Linked DNA regions of Homo sapiens: region 1 is linked to region 2. Evidence: fine-mapped expression QTL. Tissue or cell type: whole blood. Region 2 holds a variant in brackets; the other region holds the start of a gene. All regions are shown on one strand. Distances are between the middles of the regions.

Region 1 (8,000 bases), 430 kb after region 2:
CAGATTACTTCTTGACCTTTCAGCTAAAATCAAGTGTAGTATCTGTTCTTATCAGTTTGACGTGTCCCTTATCTGAGGATGTAATAAAAATAAAAATAAATAAATGGAATCATGCAGTGTGTGATTTTTGTGACTGACTTCTTTCATTTAACCTAATTTTTCAAGTTTCTTCCATGCTATAGTGTACATCAGTACTTAATTTCTCTTTTTGTGGCCAAATAATATTCCATTAAATGGATATGCCACATTTTATGTATCCATTCGTCATCAGTTAATCATCATTTGGGGTGTTTCTATTTGGTTATTATGAATAATGCTGCTGTAAACATTCATGTACAAGTGTGTATGGACATATGTTTCCATTTCTTTGAGTACATACCTAGGAGTGGAATTGCTGGGTCGTATGGTAACTATGTTTATTTTATTTTTTTTTTTTTGAGACAGAGTCTCACTCTGTTGCCCAGGCTGGAGTGCAGCGGTGGCACTATCTCGGCTCACTGCAAGCTCCGCCTCCCAGGTTTATGCTATTCTCCCGCCTCAGCCTCCCAAGTAGCTGGGACTACAGGCGCCCGCCACCACGCCCGGCTAATTTTTTTTTGTATTTTTAGTAGAAACAGGGTTTCACCATGTTAGCCAGGATGGTCTCGATCTCCTGACCTCGTGATCCACCCGCCTTGGCCTCCCAAAATGTTGGGATTACAGGTGTGAGCCACCGCGCCTGGCCCTTTTTTTTTTTTTTTTTTTTGAGACAGCCTTGCTCTGTTGTCCAGGCTGCAGTGCAATGGCAGGATCTCAGCTCACTGCAACCTCCACCATCCAGGTTCAAGCAATTCTCCTGCCTCAGCCTCCCCAGTAGCTGGGATTATAGGCATGTGCCACCATGCCCTGCTAATTTTTTTTTTTTTTTTTTTTTTTGAGACAGACTCTTGCTCTGTCGCCCAGGCTGGAGTGCAATGGGGCGATCTCAGCTCACTGCAACCTCTGCCTCCCGGGTTCAAGTGATTCTCCTTCCTCAGCCTCTGGAGTAACTGGGATTACAGGCGTCCACCACCATGCCTGGCTAATTTTTGCATTTTTAGTAGAAACAAGGTTTTGCCATGTTGGCCAGGCTGCTCTCGAACTCCTGACCTCAGGTGATGCGCCTGCCTCGGCTGCCCAAAGTGCTGGGATTACAGGCCTGAGCCACCGCACCCGGCCTAATTTTTTCATTTTTGATAGAGGAGGGTTTTCGCCATGTTGGCCAGGCTGGTCTCAAATGCCTGACCTCAGATGATCCACTCACCTCGGCCTCCCAACATGCTGGGATTACAGGAGTGAACCACCGCGCCCAGCTCTCTATGTTTAATCTTTTGAGGAGCAGCCGGACTGTTTTCCAAAGTAGTTGCACCATTTTACAATCTCCCAGGAGTGTAGGACAGGTCCAATTTCTCCACACCCTTGCCAACACTTTGTTGTTACATGTCTTTTTATAATAGCTATGTTAGTAGTGTGAAGTGGGACCACATTGTGCTTTTGATTTGCCTTTCCCTGATGGCTACAATCCAAGGCCTTTTTGTAACCAGAATTTGCAATTAAGGTTATCTGTCTACCCAATTGTCATTTTCACCGGATGTGGTGATGGCTCTGGAGGACTTCAGGTTGTCCACTTTTCACTTTTTTCTCAACAGCACAGCAGTGCCCTCTGCACTATGATTATAAGCCATCCTGTCATTCAAAGCCTTCTTGAGCACCACTTGGATGCCAGGCACTGTGCTGGTTGCTGGGGATACAGCAACAAAGCAAGATCTCACCCCTTGGAAAGTATGGTGGTAAGCCTGTGGCCCTGGACTTGAATCCTTGCTTTCTCACCTCCCAGCCTTGTGGCCTTGGCCTTACCCATGCTCAGTTTTCTTGTCTGTGAAATAAGGTTGCTCTGGGAGTTACATGTTGAGCGCTTAGCACAGTGTCTGGTGCATAGTGAGTGCTCCGTAAGTATTTTTTATTGTTAAAGGTGAAGGCGGGGACAGTGGCTCATGCCTGTAATCTCAGCACTTTGGGAGGCGGAGGTGGCCGGATCACTTGAGGTCAGGAGTTCGAGACCAGCCTGGCCAACATGGTGAAACCCTGTCTCTACTAAAAATACAAAAGTTAGCCGGGTGTCGTGGCGCGTGCCTGTAATCCTAGCTACTGGGGAGGCTGAGGCAGGAGAATCACTTGAATCTGGGAGGTGGAGGTTGCAGTGAGCCAAGATCATGCCACTGCGCTCCAGCCTGGGCAACAGAATGAGACTCCGTCTCAAAAAAAAAAAAAAAGTGAAGCCAGACAATATAATAAATATTACAGTAACGGATAATGAGATGTGGGGGAAGTACAGAGTGTCATGGGAGCACATAGTGGCGATCCCCAGCCCAGTCCAGGGTCTAGGAAAGGCTATCTAAAGGAAGTGATGCTTAAATTGAGAGATGATGGATGAGCAGGAGTTGGCTAGATCAGATCAAGAGCAGTGTGTGTGTGTGTGTGTGTGTGTGTGTGTGTTCCTGGCAGGTGGAACAGAAGAGGCATGGCATACTGGGGAGACTGAAATGTGTTCAGAATGTCTAGAGCAGTGCTGTCTAATAGAACTCTATGTTTATGAAAAATGTCTCAGGCTGGCACGGTGGCTCACGCCTGTAATCCCAGCACTTTGGGAGGCTGAGGTGGGCGGAGCTCCTGAGGTCGGGAGTTTGAGACCAGCCTGACCAACATAGAGAAACCCCGTCTCTACTAAAAATACAAAATTAGCCAGACATGGTGGTGCATGCCTGTAATCACAGCTACTCAGGAGGCTGAGGCAGGAGAATCACTTGAACCTAGGAGGCGGAGGTTGCGGCGAGCTGAGATCGTGCCATTACACTCCAGCCTGGGCAACAAGAATGAAACTCCGTCTCAGAAAAAAAAAAAAAAAAGAAAGAAAAAAAGAAAAATTTGTCATCTGTGTGCTATCCGATATGGTAGCCACTAGCCACATGTGCCAACTGAGCATTTAAAATGTGGCTAATGGGACAGCAGAACTGAATGTTTACTGTTATTTTATTATGTATTTATTTTTGAGACAGAGTTTCCCTCTTGTTGTCCAGGCTGGAGTGCAATGGCACAATCTTGGCTCACTGCAAGCTCTGCCTCCCAGGTTTAAGCGATTCTCCTGCCTCAGCCTCCCAAGTAGCTGGGATTACAGGCACGTGCCACTACGCCTGGCTATTTTTTTTTATTTTTAGGAGAAATGGGGTTTTGCCATATTGGCCAGGCTGGTCTCGAATTCCTCACCTCAAGTGATCCACCTACCTTGGCTTCCCAAAGTGCTGGGATTACAGGTATGAGCCACCGCGCCTGGACTAATTTTGTATTTTTAGTAGAGATGGGGTTTCACTATGTTGGTCAGGCAGGTCTGGAACTCCTGACCTCAGGTGATCCACCCACCTCAGCTTCCCAAAGTGCTGGGATTACAAGCGTGAGGCCTATTATAATTGATTTAAATCTAAACAGTCATTGTGGCTAGTGACTATCTTATTGGATGGCGCAGGCCTAGAGTGTAATGTGCATGACAGGGTTGCCATGAGTGACGGATAGCGATGGAGAAGGGCATCTGGACTTTGAGGGCTCATGGTATGGAGTTTGCATTTTATTCCAAGCACCATGGGTGAGGTTTTGTGATTAAGTCAAGGCGTTAGGTGACCTGGTTTTCTTTTTTTTTCTTTTTTGACACAGAGTCTCGCTCTGTTGTCCAGGCTGGTGTGCAGTGGCACAATCTCAGCTCACTGCAACTTCCGCCTCCCAGGTTCAAGCGATTCTCCTGCGTCAGCCTCCCAAGTAGCTGAGATTACAGGTGCCCACCACCATATCCAGCTAATATTTGTATTTTTAGTAGAGATGGGGTTTTGCCATGTTAGCCAGGCTGGTCTTGAACTCCTGACCTCAAGTGATCCATGCACCTCGGCCTCCCAAAGTGCTGGGATTACAGGTGTGAGCCACTGCGCCCGGCCCTGGTTCCCATTTTTAAAAGGTCACTTCAGTTGCTATAAGGAGAAATGGATTATGAGTGTGGGGCAAGAATGAAGCAGGGAGACCAGTTTGGAGGTGGCTGCAGTTGCCCAGGGGAGCAGTGATAGTGGCTTGGACCACTCAGAAAGACAAATTTTGGAGGAAGAGCTGATGCCAGGTTTTGGGAGTGAGGGAGAGAGATTCCTAGGGCTACTTCGGTGGTGGTTGGGTCCCCAAGCTCCAAGACTGAGTCCAGACCAGGGCCCCGTTGGTGGTGAGGTCTGATTTTAGCAGTGCGTGCCCACCTCCTTGTCTCCACCTGCTGGCTGGTGCTTGGAGCACCTTTAGGGGAACTTTAGCCATCAGAGTCCTGGGGTCAGGAGGCTGGGAGAAGGTCCTGGGAGGTGGGAAAGTCCCCCAACTGCTGGGTGGATGGGTGGGTGGGACTGTGTTCCCAGGGGCATCTGCTGGGCTGAGCCTCTCCCTGGGGGCTGTCCACATCAGCTTTCTCCCCTGCCATGGGTCAACTCAGGCCCATTTATGGGCCACACGGCTGCTTGGAAGGCATGTGGTGGAGAAGGGGAGGAGATAGCTGTCAGTGGACTTGGGGAAGAATCCCCCATCCATGGCAGCTTCCATGGGTGGCAAGTCCCCAGCATCCAAGGGCTGCCTCTGAGTGTCACCCACCCCCACCTGAGACCTTAGTGGCTAGAAGGGGGAGGGGTGGGGGTGGAGCCTGATTCGCAGCAGGGTGTGTCCAGATGGTCAGTCTCTGGTGGCTAGCCTGTCCTGACAGGGGAGAGTTAAGCTCCCGTTCTCCACCGTGCCGGCTGGCCAGGTGGGCTGAGGGTGACCGAGAGACCAGAACCTGCTTGCTGGAGCTTAGTGCTCAGAGCTGGGGAGGGAGGTTCCGCCGCTCCTCTGCTGTCAGCGCCGGCAGCCCCTCCCGGCTTCACTTCCTCCCGCAGCCCCTGCTACTGAGAAGCTCCGGGATCCCAGCAGCCGCCACGCCCTGGCCTCAGCCTGCGGGGTAAGTCGGTGGGCAATGCTGGGGACGTTGGAGGGGGCCGGGTCTCCAAGCCTGACAGTGAATGATGGGGTGGGGAAGGCCTAGTGGGCTCCTGGCTTCTACAGCCTGGAGCCAGGGTCTGTGTGGGGCTCCAGCACCCTCTCCCTGGACCTCCACACCCCTTCCTCTGCTGCCAGGGTGGGTGAGGGTCCCAGGAGGTGGGGTGGGGGCTGGACAGACAACTGTTGCTGCTGGGGCTTGGGAGTCTAGGGCTGGAGGAATGGGCCAGGGTTTGGTTGGGGACACAGATGGGCTAAACGGTATGAAACGGAAAGAGCACCCTTCTGCCCCAGTGTGTGTAGAAAGGGTGGTGGGTCACATCTGCAAACTGAGGCAGCCAGGCAGCTCCCCACCTCCCATGTTTCCATGGGAAAATACCCCACCCGGGTCCCCAGGGCCTGGTCCCAGCCTACCCTCTCCACTTCCCTCTGCTGGTGCCGCTCCTCTCTGCTCTCTGCCCCCTGCCCCCTGCCCCCTTCTCCACCCTTCTGTCTCCTTACCACTCTTTGACTCCTTCTTCTTTCTGATCCTGCTCACTGGGCCCATGAGGGTTCCCCAACCCTGACCGAGGCCCCACCCTTGCCAAGTGATGGAGGCTGTGGTTTCAGTTTTCCTGTGAGGGTGAGATTGTGCTGTTTGCTGAGCTTCCTAGGCCAGCCTAGGGCCTGAGGCAGCGTGGTGGAGAGAGCCTGGGCCACAGGCTAGGGGCCTCCCTCCCTTCGTGAAGCCCCCAGAGGCCCTGAGGCACACAAAGGTAGTATTCGATGCCTTCAGAGCTGAATCAGACTGAAAATATAGACAGACCCTGAAAGGCTTTGAAAACGGAAGAGGAACGTCATGGTAGACGCATGGTGTCAGATCCGGCTCTGCCAACAACTGGCGACCTTGGGAAAGCCACTCCCCCTTTCTAAGCCTTAGTAGTCTTGGCAGCAAAATGAAGGGTTTGATAGTCTAGTGGTTTTCCCAGTTATTTCTTCTTAGAGCTCCCCTTCTTTGGCGAGGGGTTGAGTGACTGGCCCCATCCCAGTCATCGCACTTTTATCTGTTGGAATATTGGCTGCCAGGCAAGACGTTGTGTAAAGAAAGGGTTGTGCTGTTAATGTAAATGGTAACAGGGGTTGTGACCCCTCAGATTCCAGGAAGTCCCAGAGGAAAAGTCGGGGACAGTCATGGCTCTTCCTGGGGGACAACATCAAAAGGGTGGCCCTATTGGTTCCCTGTTCCTCACCCCACAGGCCTCCCTCCCTCTCCTCACCCCTGCTGCTCATCCCTCCTGGCCCACTTCCCCTGCATTGGGGCTGGGCTCCCACACAGTGGGTGGACCTACTTGCACTTGGCATTTTTGCCATTAGAAGTAATGAGAAGTAATGGCAAAAACCGCAATTTTTTTTTTTTTTTTTTTTGAGACAGAGTCTTGCTCTGTTGCCCAGGCTGGAGTGCAGTGGTGCCATCTTAGCTTCCGGGTTTAAGCAATTCTCCTGCCTCACCCTCCCTAGTAGCTGGGATTACAGGCACAAGCCACCATGCCCAGCTAATTTTTGTATTTTTTTTAGTGGAGATGGGGTTTCACCATGTTGGTCAGGCTGGTCTCTAACAGCTGACCAGCCAGCCTCAGCCTCCCAAAGTGCTGGGATTACACCCAGCCACCACGCCCAGCCTTTTGCACTAACCTAATACCTCCTTTTGCAGGCTCCAGTCAGGCCAACACCGACGCGCAGCTGGGAGGAAGACAGGACCCTTGACATCTCCATCTGCACAGAGGTCCTGGCTGGACCGAGCAGCCTCCTCCTCCTAGGATGACCTCACCCTCCAGCTCTCCAGTTTTCAGGTTGGAGACATTAGATGGAGGCCAAGAAGATGGCTCTGAGGCGGACAGAGGAAAGCTGGATTTTGGGAGCGGGCTGCCTCCCATGGAGTCACAGTTCCAGGGCGAGGACCGGAAATTCGCCCCTCAGATAAGAGTCAACCTCAACTACCGAAAGGGAACAGGTGCCAGGTGAGACAGCAAGTGGGGGCAGGGCAAAGGGGGCCCCCTGCCCAGCTCCAGCAGAGCACCCGGAGTGAGACTCATTGACTAGTCCAGCACCAGTGCCCCTTCCCACAGCCTGTGGAGTCCTCAGTCTGGCCCTGGTGGCTCCTGGGCCCGACAGGCTGCCTCTGCTCTGCCATCTGGCATTGCTCTTTCCAGAGGCTTCCCCATTCTTGGCCTTCTGCCTTCTGAGGTCATGTTCTTCATGAGATACATTCTTGAGCTCTAAGTCCTCAACTGACCCTCAAATCCCCCTGTTCATGCCAACTCCCACCCCTGTCATGGTCCCTGTTGGGGAAGGCAGCAGGATCCACACTCCATCCAGTGAGAATCAAGGACATCTGGAAATGTCCCAGGCTCTCCTCAGTTCTGCAAGACTGAGCCTGTCACTCAGGGGACGTGAACTGTGGGATTGGGGATGACAGGCTTCTGCTTGGAGTCATCTGCACTTTGATTTTCCTGTGGTCTTTCCACCAATTCAGACTGTGTGAGCACCACATTCCTGAGAGTCCCACTTCCAGTCCTGCTGCATTTGGCACCCCCTACTTCCCTGCCCGGGGGCGGGGCCTGCCCAGTGAGGCTGGAGAATCCTCATGGGCCAGGCTAGACTCTGCCACAGAAGCCCCTTCTTCCCTTCTCATGCTTGAGGTACAGCCACCAGCTTTGGCCTCGCAGGCTAGAGCTGCTTCCTGTTTGTGCTGGAGGACAGTGGTCAGATTCAGCACCAGGGTAGGGGAGGATGCATGAGGAGATTCTGGGAGCTGTGGAGCCTGCCCGACACAGGCAGGACGGGCCCTTGATGCTTTCAGTACCTCAATCTGTGCCCTCAATGGGCTTCCCTACCCCAGGACCATGATGCCACCCTGGTGACAGAAAGTTCTTTGTCCAAATGGCCACTTCTGCCAG
Region 2 (8,260 bases):
TCCAGCTACTCAGGAGGCTGAGCCATGAGAATCGCTTGAACCCAGGAGGTGGAGGTTGCAGTGAGCCGAGATCACGCCACTGCACTACAGCCTGGGTGACAGAGCCAGACTGTCTCAAAAAATAAATAAATAAAAACTGCAGATAAAGATGATGAGACAGGAGTATTCTCTTTAGAAATCAGAGTGGACACAGACTTACTTTGCCTGCTGCTTTGGGAAATGGCTTAGATCCATCAGGCACAAGGTATGTAACCCATGGTGAAAACCCAGACTACCTGCACTCCTCACGTTAGTCCTAAGTTATATTTCTTCCTTGCCTTCAGAAAGCTGTCACAGCAATGGTTAACATTCCTTGAGGCACTAGGCTGTGAAGTGCTTCTCATAGATTATCTCACTGAAATCTGACAGCTCCCTAGGAAGACAGGTATTGTAACCACATGCTCATCAGAGTCTCTAGGCTACTCTCTCTTTTTTTTTTTTTTAATTTTAATTTTAATTTTTGTTTTATTTATTTATTTATTTATTTTTATTGATCATTCTTGGGTGTTTCTCACAGAGGGGGATTTGGCAGGGTCATAGGACAATAGTGGAGGGAAGGTCAGCAGATAAACAAGTGAACAAAGGTCTCTGGTTTTCCTAGGCAGAGGACCCTGCGGCCTTCCGCAGTGTTTGTGTCCCTGGGTACTTGAGATTAGGGAGTGGTGATGACTCTTAACGAGCATGCTGCCTTCAAGCATCTGTTTATCAAAGCACATCTTGCACCGCCCTTAATCCATTTAACCCTGAGTGGACACAGCACATGTTTCAGAGAGCACAGGGTTGGGGGTAAGGTCACAGATCAACAGGATCCCAAGGCAGAAGAATTTTTCTTAGTACAGAACAAAATGGAAAGTCTCCCATGTCTACTTCTTTCCACACAGACACAGCAACCATCCAATTTCTCAATCTTTTCCCTACCTTTCCCTGCTTTCTATTCCACAAAACCGCCATTGTCATCATGGCCCGCTCTCAATGAGCTGTTGGGTACACCTCCCAGACGGGGTGGTGGCCGGGCAGAGGGGCTCCTCACTTCCCAGTAGGGGTGGCCGGGCAGAGGCGCCCCTCACCTCCCGGACGAGGCGGCTGGCCAGGCGGGGGGCTGACCCCCCCACCTCCCTCCCGGACGGGGCGGCTGGCTGGGCGGAGGACTGACCCCCCCCACCTCCCTCCCGAATGGGGCGGCTGGCCGGGCAGAGGGGCTCCTCACTTCCCAGTAGGGGCGGCTGGGCAGAGGCGCCCCTCACCTCCCGGATGGGGCGGCTGGCCGGGCGGGGGGCTGACCCCCCCACCTCCCTCCCGGACGGGGGGCTGACCCCCCCACCTCCCTCCCGGACGGGGCGGCTGGCCGGGCGGGGGGCTGACCCCCCCACCTCCCTCCCGGACGGGGGGCTGAACCCCCCACCTCCCTCCCGGACGGGGCGGCTGGCCGGGCAGAGGGGCTCCTCACTTCCCAGTAGGGGCAGCCGGGCAGAGGTGCCCCTCATCTCCCGGACGAGGCGGCTGGCCGGGCGGGGGGCTGACCCCCCCACCTCCCTCCCGGACGGGGCGGCTGGCCGGGCAGAGGGGCTCCTCACTTCCCAGTAGGGGCGGCCGGGCAGAGGCGCCCCTCACCTCCCGGACGAGGCGGCTGGTCTAGGCTACTCTCTTAACTACTGTGTTATACTTCTGGGGTTGGGGGGCGGGGAGTAGTGGCAAAACTCTTGCATATATTGGCCTGTACACACCTCTGGGGAGATGATTGCGTTGAATCTGATGTCAGAGAACACAGCTTTAGATCTTGAAGGGGTTTTGGTTCAATCCTGTCTCTTGCAGTTGAGATACACTTAGGGCACATCAGTTACGAATGTGGCCTCTTGGACAATGCTATACCCAACTTGCCAGCCAGGTCCCAAGATGTTTAAGAAGTTAACAGTGTAAAAGAAAGGGAAAGAATGGAGTGGACATCATTATTTTCTTCTTTCGCAAGACTTAGAAAACAGCTGCCTGCTTTCAGGAAGGTAGTGTTTTTTCCTTTGGAATAAGGTGTGTGTGAGTATGTCCTGTTTCTGCTTCATGGTCTGGACTCTGATGAAATTGGCAAAGGCTTAAAGGAATAGGTGAAGGTACTCATGCCCCATGTGAAGGTCAAGTGTGGTGTCAGGCTGTCTCACAGGTAGTGCAAAGATATACCACATGGCTGAAAGTAGGATATGCAAAGTTGTCAACATCGAATTTAGTTCATATTTTTATGGGGCCATCTAATTCCCCAGTGCCCACTTCTGGGATTCCCTTTTTTTCCTTCTCAAAGCTTCACTCATGATCTTTTACATAAAAATTCAGGAAATTGATGCAGTTCTAAAAATGACATTGCATTTTGAGAGGCTAAACCCCTAAGAGGTGACTAACTGAAGACAAAGACAAAAAACTACCATTTGTTTCAACATATAATAAGATTCCCATTTTGTAGAATAGTTAAACCACAAAGTAAGGGCAATTTCTCTCTACATTCAACTACAGTGGGAAGAGTCTTCCCCATCCTCACCAGGATGCTGTCACTCTTCCGTAGCACTGAGAATGCAAATGCAGGACATGAACAGTAATGACAAGAAGCCAAACATGTGTATGTTTTACTGGAACTTCCAAGGACCTACAAAGAAAGGATAGATGGGATCAGACCTCAGATGTGCTGGAAAAACCACCTCTTTCCCTTTTTATTTATGTAGACTCAGAGTTGCTCTGCAAATTGCACCGAGAAGAACTGCAGTAATGTTTTACATAAAAGAGGAAACAACTTCTCTTCCTCCAGTGTACAGACTCTCCCTTCCTCACCTCTCAGTGCTCACCTTTAGGACAGCATATAAAGGAACTGAAGAGTTTCAGATTAGTTCAACCAACCACATAAACCATTCTGTTCCTACGCCTAGTGATTCATGGGGCCCACTCTATGGGCTGACTGTAATAAGAAGGAAGTGGGGGGGGGGAATCTCTCATCTACATTTTATTGTGGGGGTTCTTAACCTTTGGTATTTCACAGCAGGTGTATAAATTTCTAAAGCTTCCTACATACCTAAAGAGAGAGTAAAAACAGGCAAAGGGTCAGTAGCAGGGCAGGAGTAAGATAAGTCTCAGGCCGGGTGTGGTGGCTCAAAGCCTGTAATCCCAGCACTTTGGGAGGTCGAGGTGGGAGGATCACTTGACCCCCCCCAGAGTTCAAGACCAGCATGGGCAACATGGTGAGACCTCGTTTCTATAGAAAAAAAAATTTTTTTAAAGTCAGGTATGGTGGCACATGCCAGTAGTCCCAGCTACTCAGGAGGCTGAGAAGGGAGGACTGCTTGAGCCTGGGAGGTCAAGGCTGCAGTGAGCTGTGACTGCACCACTGCACTGCAGCCTGGGTGACAAAGATCCCATCTCTAAAATAAAGATAGGTCACAGAAGAACAAAAGAAGAAACTGGGAAGAGGCTTTTGAAAAGCATTTGAGAGCAGAGAGAATAAATAAAGCAAAGACCCTTGCGAAAGGAATGACTCAGCTGTTCAGGATGGAGGTCTCAGGAAAAGAGGCAGGCCCAGATCTGCCTACTCATCTAGCAGGATGGAAGGAGGACACTGATACATAGTGGGTTGATAAGAGGCACAGTCTAACAGTCTTGGTGGTGGTCAAGAGGGACAAAAAGGAGAGGTACAGGAGAAACAAGACACATCTGTAGTATGATCGCACAAATTTGCTGGAGAAATCCTTTGTTTAAGTCTCTCTACCACCAAGCAGCCAAAAACTTTTTGTTGAGGTCTTCATTCCTAGAGTTAACTTCCCACCTGGAGGCGTAAGATTATTATTAGTATCTGAGGGAAGCAGAAATGTCCTGAGGGTGATTTTATAATGAACTGCCACTTAGGAATTTGCCACACAGCCTTCAAAGCACTTTTAGGCTCTCAGATGGCAATCTAAATGAAAAAGCAAGGACTTTTAAATTTTTTTTGAATTACAATGTTAGCACTCCTAGGATTCTTTAATCTTTCTTACCCACAGAGAATAAAGCTACAGGTATGGTTTGACTGCAAGAACAAACAGCAGGTTCCACTGCTGTGCTTTTGTCACATTTTCAGTGGTTCATATAATGCAGTTATCCCAGTACAGCTTTTATTAACATTTTTTTTTAATTTTTGTTTTTTGGAGACAGGATGTTGTTCTGTCATCCAGGCTGGAGTACAGTGGCAGATCATAGCTCATTGCAGTCTTGAATCCCTCGGCTAAAGTGATCCTCCCACTTCAGTCTCCTGAGGAGGTAGGAGTACTGGTGTGCGCCACCACCCTATGCTAATTTTAAAATTTTTTTTGTAGAGATGGGGTCTTGCTATGTTGTCCAGGCTGGTCTTTAACTGCTGGGCTTAAGTGATCCTCCCACCTTGGCCTCCCAAAGCACTGGGATTACAGGCATGAGCTACCACACCCAGCCTCAGTATGGTTTTTTGACGCAGTCAGAATTCCT[C/T]GGGAGATTTTAGGTTACCAGAAATAGCCAATGATTGGGTAAGAAGATGCCTACTGAACACATTCAAGATTTCAGTTCAGGCCGGGCATAGTGGCTCACGTCTGTAATCCCAGCACTTTGGGAGGCTGAGGCGGGTGGATCATGAGGTCAGGAGTTCAAGACCAGCCTGGTCAATATGGTGAAACCCCATCTCTACTAAAAATACAAAAATTAGCCAGGTGTGGTGGCGGGTGCCTGTAATCCCAGCTACTCAGGAGGCTGAGGCAGGAGAATCACTTGAACCCGGGAGACAGAGGTGGCAGTGGGCCAAGACTGCATCACTGTACTCCAGCCTGGGTGACAGGGCAAGACTCTGTCTCAAAAAAAAAAAAAAAAAAAAAAAAGATTTCCACCCAGTTACAAATTAGGTGTTGAAAAAGCACACCTTGCATATTACCTACTGCAAGGCTCTGATGTGTTATGAACATATCACCGAGACCATTCAGTATCAATGGAGAGATTTCCCCAGCATGTGTGGAAGCTTACACTGAAGGAAGAGCATTAAAGCAGATTGTTTTCTACTTAATCCTAAAGAAAAAACCCACAACATCCAGCAGTGACATGTATAATTCTTTTTTTTGAGACAGAGTTTCATTTTGTTGCCCAGGCTGGAGTGCAATGATGCAATCTTGGCTCACTGCAACCTCCACCTCCTGGGTTCAAGCCATTCTCCTGCCTCAGCCGCCTGATTAGCTGGGATTACAGGCATGTGCCACCATGCCTGGCTAACTTTTGTATTTTTAGTAGAGATGGGGTTTTGCCATGTTGGCCAGGCTGGTCTTGAACTCCTGACCTGAGGTGATCCACCCGCCTCAGCCTCCCAAACTGCTAGGATTCCAAGCATGAACCACCACTCCCGGCCTATAATTCTTGGGTGTCTAAACTATTACCAATGAATACAACTTTAGGTTTCTTCTCCCTTTAGTTATCTCGTCTCTTCTCTCTAGATTTAAACTTAAGCAAGCAGAAGCCTCTGGGATTCTGTACTGACTAGAATAATTCACTGCTTCCTTCTTATTGCGAGTCCCCGTCCATCATAATCCTCCCTGGATCATGCTGAATAAACAGCTGGTGACTTGAGATGGGGAGAAATTCTACAGAGTTTCCTTGCCTGAGCCTTTCAAGGGCTAAGACTCAAAATGTTCAACTGCCTAAAGCAATAAACACCAAAAGAGGTTAAATTTCGAATTTGCTTTTCGCTTATCTAGCAGTGGACAACTAATGAACCCAACAATCAGGCAAAATCTGAGTTAGAAACATTTAGAACTGGAAATTGACCTTAAGGATAACATAATTCAATTCCTTCACCCTTCAGTGAAAAAACAACTTCCTCTTACAGGAATTGCTCCTAGTTTTCCCGCTTATAGTCTGGAATGTTTATCCCCAGAAGGAGAGAGCTTTTTAAAAAAGGAACATGCTGGAAAGAGGATACTCAGACCATGGCTGACAGAACTTGTAGGAACCTCACTTGGAGGTGGTTTCTACTGTGGTTCTACTGTGGTTTCAGTTAGGTCGCAAGGAGAGGTGACCCATCTACATGGTCATCCATTCATGGGTACAGTTTTATTTTATGACCGCTCCAAGCCTCTTAGGACACTCCACAGTGTCTTTGTTATTGTTCCTTGTGTTTGGTGCTTCTCTCTGAAAACAGGATTATACATTCCTGGCCTGTTAAATACAGGCTGGCCATGTGACCTGCTTTAGTAAAATCTGAGTAGCCAAGCGAAAAATGTTAAAAATTGTGTACCATGTTTTCCTTTTTCTCTTTGAGATTCACAGTGTTCCAGATATGGGCTGCTTTGCCCACTGGGATCCCTGCATGAAGCTGTTTTGGAACAGAGCTACAGCTGGCTCCTGGTGGATACACAGCATGAATGAGATCTAAAACTTTGTTTTTGTAAGCCTTTCAGATTTGGGGTCATTGATACCACAGCATAACTTAGCCTCTCCTGACTGAAACATCCTCCTTATTAAGTGAATCAAAAAAGTATAAAAAGTGGCCAGGAGTGCAGGCTCACGCCTGTAATCCCAGCACTTTGGAAAGCAAAGGTGGTGGATCACCTGAGGTCAGGAGTTTGAGACCAGCCTGGACAACATGGTGAAACCCCATCTCTACTAAAAATACAAAAACTAGCCAGGCGTGGTGGTACACACCTGTAATCCCAGCTACTCAGGAGGCTGAGGCAGAAGAATCACTTGAACCCAGGAGGCAGAGGTTGCAGTGAGCTAAGATCATGCCAATGCACTCCAGCCTGGGCAACAGAGCGAGACTCTGCCTTAAAAAAAAAAAAAAAAAATTATAGAAAACAACTCAGGTGTCAGCAACATAACAATGACTTTAGAATTATTTCACATTACATCTGGAGAACAATAATATTAGAGTTGACCTATGGGATGAAGAATGACCTATGAAAAGATAACTAGCTGGGCACTAAGGCAGTATGTGACTCAACTTTTATCATCTCATACAACTCCTGAATTCAGCCAAATTCTTACTATATTACCATACAATGCAACCATTAAGGTTAATTTGAGGGTGTATAAGATTTCTACAGCCTCATTTAATTCAAAGTCCAAGATGACAGCCACAATTCTTGGAAGTTAGTATTTTATAATTAATAAAGCAATGTAATATATACCAGATGTGAACGACAAAAACTAAACCAGTGACTTAAGTTACTGTTGACCAATGGGAGGAACAAAAAGTCAACAGTAATTAAACTATTTCAAACAAAAGTCTACTTGCCAGGTCAAGTATTGTGCCCATAATGGAATCAAGACCAAATATCCCAAACTAAAAGCAATGGGAAAAACTTGAAGGTCCCTCTAGTTTCGGGTATTTTAGCTACCTAAAAACCAAAAATAAAAACACCAGGAAAGAGGACAGACACACCTCCTCAGGTACAAACTGCAAGTTCAGTGACTTTGATTATTCCTAAGTTCTCCATGAGAAAATTCATCTAATAATTGGCAGTCTCTTTTGAGTAGGACAATACCATCCAAGTTTTTTTTTGTGTTTTTGTTTGTTTGTTTGTTTTGAGACAGAGTTCTGCTCGTCACTCAGGCTGGAGTGCAATGGTGCGATCTCCGCTCACTGCAACCTCCTTCTCCTGGGTTCAAGCAATTCTTCTGCCTCAACCTCCCGAGTAGCTGGAATTACAGGCACCTGCCACCACACCCAGCTAATTTTTGTATTTTTAGTAGACACGGGGTTTCACCACGTTGGCCAGGCTGGTCTTGAACTCCTGACCTCAGGTGATCCACCTGCCTCGGCCTCCCAAAGTGCTGGGATTACAGGCGTGAGCCACCACGCCTGGCCATCTTATTTTAGTTACAAAAATTTCTGGAGGATTTTGTTAAGTGAAACTATGCTAAGTGAAATAAGCCAGGTACAGAATGACAAATACCACATGATCTCACTTATATGTGGAATCTAAAAAAAGTTGAACTCATAGGCTGGGTGCAATGGCTCATGCCTGTAATCCTAGCACTTTGGGAGGCTGAAGGGGGAGGACTGCTTGAGGCCAGGAGTTCAAGACCAGCTTGGGCAACATAGCAAGACCCTGTCTTTATTTAAAACAAAAAAAAAAGTTGAACTCATAGAAAAAGAAATAGTGGTTACCAGGGGCCTTGGGGTGGGGGAGGAAGAGGAAGATAAGGAGATATTGGTCAAAGGGTACAAAATTTCAGTTAGGAGAAATAAGTTCAGGGTATC

Evidence for each region. PIP is the estimated chance that this variant, and not a neighbour inherited with it, causes the effect.
Region 1: it holds the start of TRPV2, and the variant in region 2 is fine-mapped to the expression of TRPV2 in whole blood (TOPMed, PIP above 0.99).

Annotation. Positions count from the first base shown.
Region 1 is chr17:16,410,808-16,418,807 of GRCh38, forward strand. It overlaps TRPV2 (transient receptor potential cation channel subfamily V member 2), which reads left to right and starts at 4,764. Exons shown (of 15, transcript NM_016113.5): 1 at 4,764-5,026; 2 at 6,755-7,061. The coding sequence starts at 6,862. It also overlaps the pseudogene LOC124904150. RefSeq lists enhancers at 4,595-4,714, 5,665-5,734, 5,995-6,044, 6,385-6,494 and a silencer at 5,435-5,554.
Region 2 is chr17:15,978,480-15,986,739 of GRCh38, forward strand. It overlaps ZSWIM7 (zinc finger SWIM-type containing 7), which reads right to left. Exons shown (of 5, transcript NM_001042697.2): 4 at 2,561-2,665. Among named protein-coding and RNA genes, the nearest start is that of ZSWIM7, 17 kb to the right of the region's middle. RefSeq lists enhancers at 74-659, 660-1,246, 3,624-4,313. The variant C/T (reference allele first, on the strand shown) is at 4,507.